Regions from separate parts of the Homo sapiens genome. Here region 2 is linked to region 1. A link means that fine-mapping ties the variant in region 1 to the plasma level of a protein whose gene starts in the linked region. Region 1 holds a variant in brackets. A gene starts in the other region. All regions are shown on their forward strands.

Region 1 (5,374 bases):
CTTGTAGTTCCAGCTAATGAGGAAGCTGAGGCGGGACGATCGCTAGAGCCTGAAAGGTTGAGGCTGCAGTGAGTGGTGATCGCACCGCTGCACTCCAGCCTGGGTGACAGAGTGAGAACATTCCTCAAAAAAAAAAAGAAAGAAAGAAAGAAAGAAAAGAAATGTATGATGAAAAGAGTGAATTTTACTGTAGGTAAATTTGTCAATGATTTTTTTTTAAGGACTACATACTCTGTAATCCCATTTACATGTCATCCTGGAAAAGCAAATTTATAGGGATAAAAAGCAGCTGGGTGTGGCGGCTCACACCTGTAATCCCAGTACTTTGGGAGGCTGAGGCAGGTGGATCACTTGAGGTCAGGAGTTTGAGACCAGCCTGGGCAACATGGTGAAACCCCACCTCTACTAAAAATACAAAAATTAGCCGGGCGTGGTGGCAGGCACCTGTAATACCAGCTACTCAGGAGGCCAAGGCAGGAGAATCGCTGGAACCCGGGAGGTGGAGGTTGCAGTAAGCCGAGATCGTGCCACTGCACTCCAGCCTGGGTGACAGAGCAAGACCCCATCTCAAAAAAAAAAAAAAAAGGCAGATATAGCTGAGTGTGGTGGCTCATGCCTGTAATCCCAGAACTTTGGGAGGCTGAGGTGGGTGGATCACTTGAGGTCAGGAATTCAAGACCAGCCTGGCCAACATGGTGAAACCTCGTCTCTACTAAAAATACAAAAATTAGCCGGACATGGTGGTGCCTGCCTGTAATCCCAGCTACTGGGGAGGCTGAGGCAGAAGAATCACTTGAACCCGGGAGGCAGAGGCTGCAGCAAGCAGAGATCGCGCCCCTGCACTCCAGCCTGGGTGACAGAGCAAAATGTCTCAAAAAAAAAAAAAAGAAAAAAGAAAAAGAAAAAGAAAAGAAAAGAGGCCGGGCGCGGTGGCTCACGCCTGTAATCCCAGCACTTTGGGAGGCCGAGGCGGGCAGATCACAAGGTCAATAGATCGAGACCATCCTGGCCAACATGGTGAAACCCCGTCTCTACTAAAAATTCAAAAATTAGCCAGGCATGGTGGCGGGCGCCTGTAGTCCCAGCTACTAGGGAGGCTGAGGCAGGAGAATCACTTGAACCAGGGAGGCAGAGGTTGCAGTGAGCCGAGACCGTGCCACTGCACTCCAGCCTGGCAATAGAGTGAGACTCCATCTCAAAAAAAAAAAAAGAAAAGAAAAAGCAGATTAGTGGCTGCCAGTGTCTGGGGACAAGGGGAGGAGATGACTGCAAGGAGGGCACAGTGGACCTTTTCCGGGCACTAGAAATGTTCTATATCTTGATCAGGATATGATTAAATGATTGTACATGTTTATCAGAACTCATCTAGCATACTCCTTCTTTAATTTAATTTTAATTAATTTAATTGATTTATTTTTGAGAGAGTCTCGCTCTGTCACCCAGGCAGGAGTTCGGTGGCAAGATCACAGCTCACTGCAATCTCCACCTCCTGGATTCAAGTGCCTCAGCCTCCCAAGTAGCTGGGATTATAGGCATGCGCCACCATGCCCCGCCAAACACACACATTTGAAACAGGTGTATTTTATTGCATGTAAATTATACCTCAGTACAGTTGATTTTTAAAATCTAAACTCCTGGCCAGGTGCAGTGGTTCAGGACTGTAATCCCAGCACTTTGGGAGGCTGAGGCAGGAGGATCACTGGAGCCCGGGAGTTCAAGACCAGTCTGGGCTTCCTGGCAAGACCCTGTCTCTACAAAAAAAAAAAAAAAAAAATGCAAAAACTAGCAGGGCATGGTGGCACATGCTTGTAGTCCCAGCTACTCAGGAGGCTGAGGGGGAAGGATCACCTGAGCCCCGGGAGGTGGAGGCTGCAGTGAGTCGTGAATGCACCACTGCACTCCAGCCTGGGTGACAGAGTGAGACCCCGTCTCAAAACACACACACACACACACACACACACACACATTTAGCTCCTCTTCCCCCTTATTGGCTGTGTGACCTTAGACAAAGCTCCTAACTTCTCTGTGCCTGGGTAAATGATGAGGGAGTTGGGAAGGAGGGAATGATCACTGAGGGCAGGTGCTGAGGTCTCAGGTCTCACTGTGGATTCATGCAAGAAACGTTTACAAGTGAAACAGAGGGGCTTTATGAGCTTTTAGAGGGGAACTGGAGACAGAGACCTGAGCAGCTGACAATGGCTCCTATGTCTCCGGAGGGCAGGTGGTGGGCTGAGCACTGTCAGGGCCTCACCTGCATCCCTTTGAACCATCGGGCACTCCTTTGCTGACCTGGAAAAGTGAGTGGAGCCATCCCTGGGATCCCAGAGAAATGGCATCGAGGGCACACAATTAAGAGCATTGTAAGCAAGCCTTGTGAACAGTCAGATGGGCTTGACAGCCCCGTGCCCAGAGGTCTCTGCTGTTTGGGGCAGTGCTGGATACACACAGCAGTGACAGCCCCAGGCCTGCCCTCACAGGCTCACACATGGGGAAGACTAGCCTGTCCCCAGACAGTCGCATCCCAGAATGTTGGGGCTGGCATGGTCAGGGGGGCCCAGAGGGGGCTCCTGACTCAGACTAGAAAGAGAAATCAGGGAGGGCTTCCTGGAGGAAAGGCTGTCAGAGCTGGGGCCTGATGTGTTTATTGAGCACTTACTGTGTGACCTGGTTTGGATCTCCAAGAAAGAGGTATAGTTTTGACGTTGAAGTGAAAGGGGTATGTATGGAAGGAGGATGGTGCGAGAGAGGCCTTGGCTAAGAGGCAGAAAGGGGTGTGGGTGGGACAGAGCCGGGGGAT[AAG/A]GCTGAAGGAAGACGGTAGCTGGTGTGGGTCCTCTGCGGCAGGATCCTGGACTTTCTCCCGATGATGGGGCTCAGGAAGGAGCAGCTTCCTCAGGTTCCATCCTGTGCAAAGGGAGGACCAGGCAGGAGGAGGTGGGGAGGCTGAGGAAAGGCCATGGAAATGAGAAGTGGCTATAAGAGCCACCCAGGGGAGGGGACACAGGGAGGGTGAGAAGACCTGGGCGCCCGCTCCTTTCTCTTCTCTGTTCTCACTCTGAGCTAGACGGCATTGGCCGGGCAGCTTCCTTGTTTCTAAAAGTTTAAGATAAAGGGCAGGCAAGGTGGTGCCTGCCTGTAGTCCCAGTGCTTTGGGAGGCCCAGGCAGGTGGATCACTTGAGCCTCCTGTTTGGAGCTGTAGTGAGCTATGATCACATCACTGCACTCCAGCCTGGGTGACAGAGCAAGACCCCATATCTAAAAATAATAATAATAATTAATAATAAATATAAATTTAAGATAGTGAATCTGGCCGTGCGTAGTGACTCATGCCTGTAATCCCAGCACTTTGGGAGGCTAAGGTGGACGGATCACCTGAGGTCAGGAGTTCAAGAACAGCCTGGCCAACAGGACGAAACCCTGTCTCTATTAAAAAACACAAAAAAATTAGCTAGCGTGCACCTGTAGTCCCAGCTACTCGGGAGGCTGAGGCATGAGAATCGCTTGCACCTGGGGGACAGAGGTTGGCATAAGCCAAGACCGCACCACTACACTCCAGCCTGGGTGACAGAGTGAGACTCCATCTCAATAAAAATAAATAAATAAATAAATAAATAAATAAATAAATAGTGAATCTTAAGTTTGCCAAGGATGCATTTTTATCTCTCTTTAGTTCTTAAGACTCTGATCATTCTTCTTTTTTTTTCAAGTTCCAGGGTATATGTGCAGGATGTGCAGGTTTGTTACATAGTAAAAATGTGCCACGGTGGTTTGCTGCACCCATCAACCCATCGCCTAGGTATGAAGCCCGTCATGCATTAGCTATTCTTCCTAATGCTCTCCCTCCCTCTGCACCCCTCCCCATCCCAACAGGCCTCAGTTTGTGTTGTTCCCCTTCCTGTGTCCATGTGTTCTCATCATTCAGCTCCCACTTATAAGTGAGAACACGTGGTGTTTGGTTTTCTGTTCCTGCGTTAGTTTGCTGAGGATAAATGGCTTCCAGCTCCATCTGTATCCCTGCAAAGCACATGATCTTATTCCTTTTCATGGCTGCATAGTATTCCACGGTGTATACATACCACATTTTTCTTTATCCAAGACTTCGATCATTCTTAATTTTTATTTTTATTTTATTTATTTATTTATTTATTTTTGAGACAGAGTTTTGCTCTTGTTGCCAAGGCTGGAGTGCAATGGTGCAATCTCAGCCCAATGCAACTTCCTCCTCCTGGGTTCAAGTGATTCTCCTGCCTCAGCCTCCCGAGTAGCTGGGATGACAGCCATGCACCACCATGCCGAGCTAATTTTGTATTTTTAGTAGAGATGGAATTTCTCCATGTTGGTCAGGCTGGTCTTGAACTCCTGACCTCAGGTGATCCGCCCACCTTGGCCTCCCAAAGTGCTGGGATTATAGGTGTGAGCCACCGTGCCTGGCCTAATTTCTTAAATTCTACCCATTTTTGCTCCTAAAGTTCTGTAACTGCAGGTTTACTTGATCCTTTGATACTAAGATTCATTCATTCAGTAAATACTTACTGGGCCTCTATTCTGCCCTAGGTCCTAATGATACAAGGGAGAACAAAATGTATAAAATTTTTGCCATGACAGAAATCACATTTACTGAGCACTCACTGTGTGCCAAGTTTCATGCCAGGTGTACACATATAACATTACCTACATGATGAGTTACAGACTTCTATTATCCCCATTATCCAAATGGGGAAACTGAGGCATAGGGTTCTGGAATCCCTTGTTCCTAAAAATCTAGGATTCTAGAATTCCTCTCCTTCTCCTTCCTCTTCCTCTTCCTCCCTCCTCCTCCTCCTCTTCTCCTTCTCCTTCCCCTTCCCCTTCCCCTTCCCCTTCCCCTTCCCCTTCTCCTTCTCCTTCTTCTTTTTGAGACAGGGTCTCACTGTGTTGCCCAGGCTGGAGTGCAGCGGCATGATCATAGCTCACTACAGCCTCAATCTCCCAAGCTCAAGAAATTCTCCCACCTCGGTCTCTTAAGTAGCTGGGACCACAGGCAGGGTCTCACTTTGTTGTCCAGGCTGGTCCCAAATTCCTGGGCTCAAGTGATCCTCCTGTTTCAGCCTCCCAAAGTGCTAGGATTACAGGCATGAGCCACCGTGCCCAGCCTAGAATTCTTTGCACCTAAGATTGTAAGGGTCTATAATTCTTTGTCCTTAAGATTCTCTTATGCTTGGATTCAAGTGAACAATGTATATAGGAAAAGGTGCTGAATCTCATTATTGATCCAGGAAATGCAAATTAGAACCACCCTGAGATTCCAATCCACACATACACACAGCAGGATGACTCATATTTTTAAATCTGGTAGATCCAGTACTGATAAAGATGTGGGGCAAGGAGAACTCACAG
Region 2 (5,374 bases), not on the chromosome of region 1:
CATTTGTGCTTGTGGTTCCCTCTGCAGGGACGTCTGCCCATCTTCCTGAGGTTTCATCTCCAGGCCTTCTTGCAGAGAAGTCTCTCCTCACAATCCAATCCAAGAAGCTAGGCCCCTCCCATATATCCAACACACACATACACACACACACACACACACACACACACACACACCACTATACTGCAGCAATCTGCTTGCTTTTCTTCTCATTATATGAATTCACCCTGTTCATCCCTCAATTCTAGAATGTGAGCACTGTGAGAGCAGAGAGCATATCTATCTTACTAACTGTGCTGTACTCAGTACCTGGCACTTAGGATCTGATCAATAAATATTTTTTGAAGTGAATGAATGAATGAATACAAGTTCTACTAGGAATCAACTAGCCCACTTAATTCAATGAGCATCTACTCTTACAATAGACTTTTTATTTCTCCTCAACTGCTAAGTTTCTTTAAAAACCAAAAACCTACATGTTTGTATGTATTAGCCTGTTTCTGTTAGTGTTGAGTCACGCCCATAAAATTGAGCAAAATGACAGTGAGGGCACATAATGTGTCTAACAGGTGGCTGGCGTCATGAAGAAAGTCAGTAAGAACCCAGAATCATATTCTGAAACAATACAATTTTAGAACTGAATGTTTCTCTTCAATTTCCCTTCACTCAGTACTTTCTCTTCAATGCTTTTATTTTATGGAAATTTCTCAACATCTTGAGACGTCAGTCAGGCTTATTATCACGAATCTTGAAAAAAAATTAGGCTTAAGAGGAATCAGAGTGTAAATAATCCAATATCCACCTTCCTTTCCAGGAAATAGCCATCTTCTTGGGTATCAGGAAAAGGAAGATAAAGGGGACTCCTAAACTGACTTTCCCAGGGGCTCCCACTCCAGCTGCTCAGGTACCCAGTTAGCACTTTTCTTAATGTTCTGTGCTGACAGAGCTTCAAAGAGTGTGGTAAGTCATATTCATGTGCAAAGGTGAGAGTGAGGGAATGTGTTTAGGCCCATGTATGTTCCTCACAACAAAAGTGCAAAGGGGACAGAGACACAATGGAGAGGAAATGAGGACCCAGCTGTCCCAGGTTCTGTCTGAGGGAAAAGTCCTGCGGTGCTAAGCAAGCCCTTCCACACCTCAGAAGGGATTTCTCAACTGTAAAATGAGTGGCTGAACCAGATTCACAACACTCCTAATGCTGCAACTCCTTCAGTCTTGCTGGCTGTACAGTAGGCAGTCACAGACTATGGTGCCAGCCTTGGGTATGAAGGGCCCAGTTCAATGAAGAAAGACATTGAGACATCACCACATGGCCAGCAGCAGCTTCTGGTGCACAAATATCTGGGGAGGGGAAAGCACTTTCAGTGCCCAAGTGCAAGGAGCTGAAGTAGGCCTGCTGGAAAATGCCAAGGTGGTGCGCTGTCTCACCACTTTCTGCAGGGCCAGCAGAATTCCTCTGTGAGGGAATCTGCCTGGGTGATGGAGGCTCACCAGTGCCTCGTGACCAGAAGGCCATCTGCTTCTTCTTGATCAGGCCAGTGCTTAATGCTCAGATCTCTGAATTCAATGTAAGCTCAAGGTTTCGTGCTGAGCCTCTTGGGATTGCCAACACCTCAGGGGATACATTTTCCAGCTCCTACCCATATACCAGTCTCCCAGCTCAGCATTCTCATTTGGATCAAAAGTAATTTGTGCAAGCCTGATTTGTTAACACATCCCAAATCTGAATCCGTGTGCCTTTTAAAGGTGGCAAGCTGCCATTTATGAGCCATACGCACCTCTCCTTCCTCATCACCACTGCAGTAATCCCAAGAACCACAGGCATGAATAAAAGCCCGAACTTTTCGTTTTTGGTGACAGAAATTTCTCTTACAAGCTCCAGGAGATGATGAGGAAGACAGTGTTCTCTGTTTTCTGATTTTGCTTAATTTTTTAAAAATGAGCCTCTCCCTTGACTTGGTGACACAGCTGTGATCTTATCTGGCCGGCAGGGGGATGCTCCAGGTAGGACAAAGAGTGCTTTGTTTTGTTCTTACAGCAGCCACGCATAACTGGGCTCCAAAAACGCAATACTCCTCAAAGGGAGAGTGAGAGAGAGGGAGAGAGGGAGAAGGGTGTGTGAGAGAGAGAGCGGAGGGAGAGAGAGAGAGGAGGCAGAGTGAGAGGTGTGTAGTGGTGTGTGTGTGTGTGAGAGAGAGAGAGAGAGAGAGAGAGAGAGAGAGAGAGAGAGAGAGAGAGAGAGAGAGAGAGAGAGAGAGAGAGAGACGGAGAGAGAGATTGTCCCTGTAGGAGATCTACAGATAAGAAAACTCCGGGGCGGGCGCGGTGGCTCATGCCTGTAATCCCAGCATTTTGGGAGGCGGAGGCGGGCGAATCACGAGGTCAGGAGATCGAGACCATTGTGGCGAACACAGCGAAACCCCGTCTCTACTAAAAATTCAAAAAAATTAGCCGAGCGTGATACGGCACGCCAGCAGTCCCAGCTACTCGGGAAGTTGAGGCAGGAGAATTGCTTGAACCCGGGAGACAGAGGTTGCAGTGAGTCGAGATCGCGCCTCTGCACTCCAGCCTGGCGACAAAATGAGACTCCGCCTCAAAAGAAAGAAAGAAGGAACGAAAGAAAGAGAGAGAGAGAGAAAAAAAAGAAAAGAAAACTCCATGTGTTCCCTGCCTGTCCTGATTCTCCCCCCAGCTCTGAGCTCTTAGGGTTGCTTCCTTTCGGGAAAAGGTTTGGAAGAACTGGTGTCTAATACCGTCATCCTCTCCCTCTCCCCGCAAGGATCCTAGCGCTGTTTCCGAGGGCTGCAGGGACTGTGAGCCCAGGACCGGCCAGCAGAGCGGGTGCGACTCAGCGAGCCCACCCCGGCCGGTCGCCGCTCCGGGGTCCCGACCTCCAGCGCGGCGACCGTGCCCTTCCTCCCACTCCCGCCTCGCCCCCGGGGCCCCTCCTCACTCAGGCGCGGCGCGGAGCTGCTCGCGGGAACTGGGGTCCCTGGGCGCGTTCCACCGCGCACCAACGCGACCCAAGCGCTCCAAACCCGACTGCTTCTCGCCGACAGCACTGCGAGCCTCCGACCAGCCGCTGTCCCCCTGGCTGCGGGCCGAGCAGCTCTGGCAGGCGGCGGGCGGGTGGGCTGCGCGCGGGCTGTGTCCTGGGTCCGCCTAGCGCGGCCTTGTGGCCCCGACCCTCTCCTCCCCTGGTGATGCTGGAGGAGGTACCGGGGAGGAGCGTGTGTGGCCCCGGCCTCTCACTAGCAGCGGCGGCTCCCGACGCTAGCCTGCTCGAGCGCACCCAGCACCCTCCCCAAGACCATGGCCCGCACCTGGACCCGCGGTTAACTTAGCCCGCCGCGGAGAGAGCCAGGCAATGCCTGGGTGGTGTCGTGCTCACCAGCTCCTTTCCGCAGACCTGATGCCGATCAGATTTACTCCCTGCTGAATTCACCCCCCAGTCAGGCCGGTTTTCCTTGTTTCACCGTGTTCTCTGAATACACTGAATTACTCCGAGCATCTATAGTTGGCAATGCCCTGCGCATTTTCCGCACTCCGATACACTTTACACTGAACACCAATTCGGAAGTTGTGTGGACCGTGCTCCAGATTGGAAGGCCTGCCACTGTGCTGGTGTCATTTCTCCCTGGAAATGACAATGAAGGACAATCAGGAATAGCACTTAGGTCTGAGGAGAAATGGAGCTAGAAGGAGCCGTTTCATAGCTCAGTGTAACACAGAGTTATTTGGGGTTTAACTGAAACGCCTTCCTTCATCTTCCAATGTTTTCTCTTCAATCCACTTTCTAATAAATTAAAAACACACTCATTTAAAACTTCAGCTAGAAACTTAGGGAAAGTAGTTTGAAATTTATGTGTGGTGTTATTAAAATTTTATATTTTTAAATCGTGTTTTGGTTTTTGGTGAGGTGCCAGAACTGGAGATGAAATTTTGCTTATTTTGATTTTGAGTATTCTGCAGTAAGATGGCCTGAATTTTAGCTTGTTTCTCCCACTTATGAGTGGTGTGACCTTGGGGAAGTTCATCATCTCTGCTTCTCGGTCTCCTCATCCATAAAATCAAGAAAATCAAAATCAGTCAGTCAGAGGCAGTTTGTGAGCACGAAATGCAAATACATGTGAAATGCTTGGGACAGAGCTTGGCCTATGGGAAACATTCATTCAATATGTGTTATCTAATATTGATAGCTTAATGAAGCAGTGACTCATTTAAACCTAACAATAGATTTTATTTTTAATTTAAATGGAACTCTATCCGCCTAATGACATTGTCTTGTACTTCCTGGACTAACCCCCTGTAAAACAAATGGCCCACAAATATCAATCTAAAAGGATACATTATGCCCTACCAAAGACATCTCTAACGTCTTCTTTTGACCTTAAGACAAAGGTGAAGACAAAGTTGAAGTTGAAGACCTAATCCCACACTAAAAAGGTGGTAAGCTTTGAGAACAGCTCCTGAAAACAAGTATGCAACATTTTATTCACTTCTCTCATTGCCAGCAACATGTCATCTCCCATTGTCATTAGGTCATATTCTCTGAGCAGCCCCACAGCAGTTGGCATTTGGCAGGTTAGTGCCCTGAGAAGATGCCCAGTGAAGAGTGCCCAGATTTAGCAAATAAAAATGCAGAACATCTGGTGAAATTTGAATGTCAGATAAACAATAAATAGTTTTTTAGTATAAATATGCCCCATGCAATATTTGGGACATATACTAAAAAGTTATTTGTTGTTTATCTGAAATTCAGATTTAACTGGGCTTCCTGTATTATATCTGGCAACCCAGTAAGTAAAATTAATAAAGAATATTCCTCACATTCCAAGAGGATAAGTCAACACAGACATACAGATTATAAGGTGTGTCTGATATGGGTTGTTTTAGTTTTTTATGAGTTGGTTCTTTGTTATTCTGTTTCCTACATTTAATTCCTCCTCTCATTTCCCATTGACATAACAGTACCTATTTCCTCTTTAATATGAATGAAACTGATGTCTCACCTCTTCCCTTCAATCAAGATATTAAATTGTAATAATGTGCTCAATTTCTTTTTCTTTTCTTTTCTTTCTTTCTTTTTTTTTTCTTTTCTGGAGATATGGTCTCACTCTGTCACTCAGGCTGAAGTGCAGTGGCATGATCACAGCTCACTGCCGCCTTTACCTCCCAGGCTCAAGCAATCCTCCTACCTCAGCTTCCCAAGTAGCTAGGATCACAGACACATATCACCACACCTGGCTAAATTTTTTATTTTTATTTTTTGTAGAGACAGTGTCTCACTATGTTGCCCAGGTTGGTCTTGAACTCCTAGGCTCAAGCGATCTTCCTGCCTCAGCCTCTCAAAGTGCCAGGGTTACAGGTGTGAGCC

Which allele goes with the higher level. Alleles are on the strand shown, and positions count from the first base shown. The strength of an association depends on the size of the effect and on how common the allele is.
For the plasma level of the protein whose gene starts at base 3,146 in region 2, AAG is the high allele of the variant in region 1 and A is the other (strong association).

What was found. PIP is the chance, under the fine-mapping model, that this variant and not a neighbour inherited with it causes the effect. The UK Biobank Pharma Proteomics Project read protein levels with antibody pairs (Olink). The fine-mapping took linkage between variants from a reference panel, not from the people measured, so its PIPs are less certain.
Region 2: PLA2G7 starts here. The variant in region 1 is fine-mapped to the plasma level of the PLA2G7 protein (UK Biobank, PIP above 0.99).

Annotation. Positions count from the first base shown.
Region 1 is chr19:44,729,796-44,735,169 of GRCh38, forward strand. No RefSeq gene overlaps it. Among named protein-coding and RNA genes, the nearest start is that of CEACAM16-AS1, 7.3 kb to the left of the region's middle. The variant AAG/A (reference allele first, on the strand shown) is at 2,798.
Region 2 is chr6:46,732,230-46,737,603 of GRCh38, forward strand. It overlaps PLA2G7 (phospholipase A2 group VII), which reads right to left and starts at 3,146. Exons shown (of 12, transcript NM_005084.4): 1 at 2,951-3,146.